Linked DNA regions of Homo sapiens: region 1 is linked to region 2. The links come from fine-mapping of genetic effects on plasma protein levels. Region 2 holds a variant in brackets. A gene starts in the other region. All regions are shown on their reverse strands.

The links. PIP is the chance, under the fine-mapping model, that this variant and not a neighbour inherited with it causes the effect. The UK Biobank Pharma Proteomics Project read protein levels with antibody pairs (Olink). The fine-mapping took linkage between variants from a reference panel, not from the people measured, so its PIPs are less certain.
Region 1: it holds the start of CLEC5A, and the variant in region 2 is fine-mapped to the plasma level of the CLEC5A protein (UK Biobank, PIP 0.92).

Annotation. Positions count from the first base shown.
Region 1 is chr7:141,945,625-141,948,530 of GRCh38, reverse strand. It overlaps CLEC5A (C-type lectin domain containing 5A), which reads left to right and starts at 1,557. Exons shown (of 7, transcript NM_013252.3): 1 at 1,557-1,724; 2 at 2,219-2,317. The coding sequence starts at 2,239. RefSeq lists an enhancer at 1,876-2,906.
Region 2 is chr20:3,704,969-3,707,874 of GRCh38, reverse strand. SIGLEC1 (sialic acid binding Ig like lectin 1) reads left to right here. Exons shown (of 22, transcript NM_023068.4): 2 at 638-795; 3 at 1,169-1,528; 4 at 1,835-2,131. The coding sequence starts at 747. Among named protein-coding and RNA genes, the nearest start is that of SIGLEC1, 6.2 kb to the left of the region's middle. The variant G/T (reference allele first, on the strand shown) is at 1,381.

The DNA of each region.
Region 1 (2,906 bases), not on the chromosome of region 2:
CCAATAAATATATGGATCCTTCTGGACAGCAATCTAGGGTCTAGAAGTAATTACCTTGTGACCAGATAAATCAGGTTCAATGAGATTTTTCAAAAACACAGAGGACTATCCAAGTAGAACAAAACACAACTTTAATGTTCCAAAGCCCTCCAAATGTACATGTCTTTTGATCCAGCATTTATATTTCTGATAACTTAGCCCAAGAAAGTTATTAAGGACATGTAAAAGGATGCATGCACTTAGCTGTTCACTGTGCATTGGGAAGATAGTTAGAAGAGTTTTAGAAAATAGTTAGAATACTAAGGATTTATGTTTAAGATGCTGAGTATCACGCTATTGAAATTACAAGCATTATCTTGCTCATTTCTCGGAACAATCCTATGTGGTATTTACTATAATTACTCCTATTTATAGATAAAGAAATGGAAGGTAAAGAGACTCAGTAACTTAATCAAGGATGTTCAGCTAGTGAAGGTCAGCTCCAGGAATCAAAAGCAGGACTGATTTTTAAAACTTTGTTCTTGTCCACCACACTTTACTAGAAGATTTGTGGTTATGCAATTGTTAAAGAAATAATATACTTTTACACCTGAATAAATAAATCATATAGTTTTACACCTGAATGCTATGCACATATTAAATAATACATTATCAAAATCTATATTTTGACATGAAAAGATATATATAACATAGTGTTAGCTTAATCTTGAGCAGATAGATTGCAAAACAATATGTACAATATGTTCCCATTGTTCTTTGTGAACCAGTGTTTTTCTGTCTATCTATCTATCTATCCATCTATCTTTCTATCTACCTACTCATCTCGAAAGGATACACCCTGAGGTGCTAGCAATGACTATAACTAAATGTACAAGGTTATAAATGGTTTTGTTTTCTCAATTTTCCTTGTTAATATTTTCCAGCCATTTTTTTGTCATGAGCACAGTAGTTTTCATAGTAGGGAAAATAAAAGCAAATTTTCAAATTTAACACGAAATTAAAAACTCCTTGACAATAGGACTTGAGTATTGTTCACCCCAGCCCACTGCTGTATCCAGCAGAGTGCCATGTTCAAGAAACACTGAAGAGCCACCATGAGGTCTGGAAGGTGAGCAGGTGGTGCCAGAGAGGAGTCCATGATAAAGGGGAATGAGCAGAGCTCCAGCAAATGGAGCAAATGGAACAGCAAGAACCTGCTCATTCATATTAGTGTCTTCAACTGGATTTCTTAACATTTTTAACTTGACATAATTTCAGACTTGCAGAAATGTTGTAAGGAAAGTACAAATAACTTCCAGCTACCTTTTATCCAGATTCAATGTTTGTTAAAATTTTACTACATTTCTCTTCCCACTGTATTTCAAGGAGATTTAGACACAGAGGAAGGGTGAATCTGTGTTGAGGTATTTTGTTTTCCAAATTGTCCTTAAAATGTTCCTCTGCATTAGAACTCTCCTGGCAGGAAGTCTGCTCTTGCCACCACTAGGGCTAGAGAGTCTCTTCCCTTCTTTGCCCCGCCTGCTCCCTTTGCCAAGAACCCCACTGAACAGGAAGAGGTATTTCTTGGGGATGCTACCAAGGCAGAGACTGTGAAGAAGGAAGAACGTTGCTTGGGCAAAAGGAGCATATTCTCAGGAGACGGGGCCCCTGCCTGCCACACCAAGCATTAGGCCACCAGGAAGACCCCCATCTGCAAGCAAGCCTAGCCTTCCAGGGAGAAAGAGGTGAGTCTGTCTGTCTGTCTTGGCTGCATGGACTGTTGACCAATGCCAAGACCTTCAGGGATGCCTGTCCTGTCTGTCACCTACCCCTGGTATTTGGAAGACTGAGGCTTCTGACAACTTAAGTCAGTATGGTGAAGGCTACAGACTAAGGTCCTTGGGAACAAGGGTCATTTCAAGGATAAGGGTTCTCAAAATACAGGAGAGGGTTTAATTATTAGACAGAATTTAGGAGGCCACAAATAGGGCAAGGCTGAGGCCTGGAGTAGGGAATGAGTGAAGGAGAGGCAGTATGCCAAGTTCCAAGGCTCCAATCAATACATGATTCTTTCTGTGTTCGCGGCCCACGCTGGGTCACCTCCTGGTACCTGTCAATGTCATGCCTGTCTTCCAAGCCTGCCTTGCTTTGGGTACTCTGAGCGAGAGGCTGGGATATGTCCTAGTGAAAAGCAGCCTTGTACCCGAATTCTGATGCTGCTGTGCTCTAATCTTCACAGGCCCCTGCAGCTCCTTCATCATGAACTGGCACATGATCATCTCTGGGCTTATTGTGGTAGTGCTTAAAGTTGTTGGAATGACCTTATTTCTACTTTATTGTGAGTATTTGAGCAACCTCTTGCCCCAGACTTCATGTTGTCTTGCTCATTGACTCTTCTCTCAGAATGCATGGTTGTGTGTAAAGGTTACATATCCAAGTCTTTCCACCTGAGACTAACTGACCCAACCTGAGGTCAATTGGCAATGCCTTTCTCACTCCCCAGCACACACAGTGGCCCAGGCTCCTTGGTCTACCTTGGAGATATAGAACTTACCAGTTTCTGATGGTTAGAACGCCACGCAAAGCTTTTGCTAGTAGAGTATTATTTGGGTGATCTCAGCTGAAGTACTTGGCAGCGCTTGTTATTGTTGGCAAAATCTAAAATACAGCTCCAGTTCAACCCAATGACAAGGCCATGGTAAGAGCTGAAGTATAATGTAACAGGATTTAACTGAGAAAGAAATTTCTCTTTGTATACATATAAATTAATTCATCCAAATGCCTAGTTAAAGAAGCCTCCTATGAAAGGATTTTACTGCAATCAGAAACTAGAATCTTCTCTAGCCCCAGAAGCCAGTAGGGAAAATAAATGAGGAAGGAAACGTGAGTGGGAGGCAGTAGTTAGCTAAGAGGTGTCTTCCTCATGA
Region 2 (2,906 bases):
AGCAGGCAAAGATTATCTGTGGTGGAGATAGAGCTGGGCAGCTAGGGAGCCCTTGAGCAGACAGAACTGCCCCCAGAGTGGGTCTGCGGAGAGCAGGGAATGGGGACAGAGCTGGGGGCAGGAAATGAGGACTTTTCACATCTCACGGGCAATGGGGAGCCACAGAAGGTTTTTGAGCAGGGGAGTGACTGTTAAAGGCAGCACTTCGGCAAGTTCAGTAAAGCCCCATTATGGTCTATAGTTAGTAAGGCAGGTGGTAGGAGACAAGCCTCAGGAAGAAACCATCATTCTAGCTGGGTGTCTTGGAGTGAGTAACTGGGCATCTCTGGGCTCCAGTTCCTGTTGGTTTGGGTGGTGGGGAGGGGGCAGGGAAGTGGGGAAGAGGGAGAAACAGCTGTTCATCTGCCTTAGGGTGGTATCCTTGAGGGGCTGGGAAAGCAGAACTTGGGATAGGGCCAAGGGACACACAGGCTTTTCTGAGGCAGGCCACCAAGTGAGGGCATTCCTGGGCACAGCCTGAGCTGGGAACGTGGCCTCCTGGCTCTCTGCTGGTGTCTGACTCAGAGGTCTTTAAGAGCCCTGCCCTCTTATTGGGTTGGCCAGCAGAGGAGGTGGGGACACAGGCTCGGACTTCTAGCAGGTGCTGGGGCTAAAGTGCCCAGAGGTGTCCCTGGAGGCCCCTGTGAGCCCAGCCAGCGCAGTGCGCACCACCCTCTTAGGCAACAGGAGCAGCACAAGAACCTGCTATGGGCTTCTTGCCCAAGCTTCTCCTCCTGGCCTCATTCTTCCCAGCAGGTAAGCTTTGCGGGCCTAGTGCCTGTCTTCCAGGGTCCAGCCTTCATAAGTCCAGCCCTTGGCAGATTAGACTATGCCTGGGTCACATGTTTGGTTGCTGAGGTCAAGGGAGGGCCCAATCGGGCAGTGGCCAGGAGCTGGGCAGGAAGCTGCCATCTGTCTTCGAGCCACCCTACCAAACCTCTGAGCAGCCTCGGGCAGTGGACTGACCCCTGGGGCACTGAGAAGGGCTGCTCTAAGTGTGCATTTCTCGGGGCAGGGCAGAATTTGGGAGCCCAGCTGGGGCACCTTCTCTGGGGCAGGTCGCAGGGCTCTGTGGCACCCTGAGGCCTGTATCACCCTCCCCTCTGTCCCCCTGCCGTTCTTCCCCCAGGCCAGGCCTCATGGGGCGTCTCCAGTCCCCAGGACGTGCAGGGTGTGAAGGGGTCTTGCCTGCTTATCCCCTGCATCTTCAGCTTCCCTGCCGACGTGGAGGTGCCCGACGGCATCACGGCCATCTGGTACTACGACTACTCGGGCCAGCGGCAGGTGGTGAGCCACTCGGCGGACCCCAAGCTGGTGGAGGCCCGCTTCCGCGGCCGCACC[G/T]AGTTCATGGGGAACCCCGAGCACAGGGTGTGCAACCTGCTGCTGAAGGACCTGCAGCCCGAGGACTCTGGTTCCTACAACTTCCGCTTCGAGATCAGTGAGGTCAACCGCTGGTCAGATGTGAAAGGCACCTTGGTCACAGTAACAGGTGATAAGTGGGGTGGCCTGGCTGCCCCCCGGGAGGGATTCCCAAGCTGCTTCTGGACCCCTTGGCTCTCAGCCCCAGCCCTTGTCCTGAATCTAACCCCAGCCAGTCTCAGCCTCTGTTCCAGCCCCGGCGTAGGCCCAGGCCTGGTTCTCCCTTGTATTCACCCAAGTGGGGCTGGAGTAGAAAGCGTCTTTCCTTCCCCTAAAAGCCCCCTCCCCAGGGCTCTCTCCTCAGCTGGGGTTTCCAGGGCGAGGGATCTCAGGGGTGGCAAAAGCGGGTCCTGAGCACTGCTGTCTCTGTCCTCAGAGGAGCCCAGGGTGCCCACCATTGCCTCCCCGGTGGAGCTTCTCGAGGGCACAGAGGTGGACTTCAACTGCTCCACTCCCTACGTATGCCTGCAGGAGCAGGTCAGACTGCAGTGGCAAGGCCAGGACCCTGCTCGCTCTGTCACCTTCAACAGCCAGAAGTTTGAGCCCACCGGCGTCGGCCACCTGGAGACCCTCCACATGGCCATGTCCTGGCAGGACCACGGCCGGATCCTGCGCTGCCAGCTCTCCGTGGCCAATCACAGGGCTCAGAGCGAGATTCACCTCCAAGTGAAGTGTGAGTTGTCTGGGGACACACCCTTGTGGCTGAGCGCATCTGTTGCTCCTGACAGAAACCAGCCCCTCTCCAGCCCACAGAAACGGAACCCTTGCTCCTGATGCAAAACCAGGCTGCTCCTGGGCCTCCAGGGTAGGGCAAGTGGAGAGACACTGCTGAGCCCCAAGGACTTCGTTAAATGGTTCCCTCCACCTCCTACTGCTTCGAAGGGGCTTGTCCTTGAGGCCAGGCTGGGCAGAGAAAGGGAGACACAAAGGGTTGGGGAACAGGAGCTCCCATGCAGCTTCAGGGTTGGCAGCAAGTGCCCCGGGATTTACCCCGTGCTGGAGGATGCTGGGGAGGTGGGATTTATCCCTTTCCTGCCTGGCTCTGTTTTCTCAGTCTATGACGAAGATAACAATAGATGGTTCCTGTCTCACAGATTTATGATAAAAATTAAAGGAGATGGGCCGGGCGCGGTGGCTTATGCCTGTAATCCCATCACTTTGGGAGGCTGAGGCGGGTGGATCACTTGAGGCCAGGGATTCAAGACCAGCTTGGCCAACATGGTGAAACCTCGTCTCTACTAAAAATACAAAAATTAGCCGGGTGTGGTGGCATATGCCTGTAATCCCAGTTACTAAGGAGGCTGAGGCACTAGGATTGCTTGAACCCCGGGGGTGGAGTTGTATTGAGTTGTGATTGTGCCACTGCACTCCAGCCTGGGTGACAGAGTGAGACTGTGTCTCAAACAAAAAACAACAACAACAACAAAAACAAATAAAGGAGATGACCC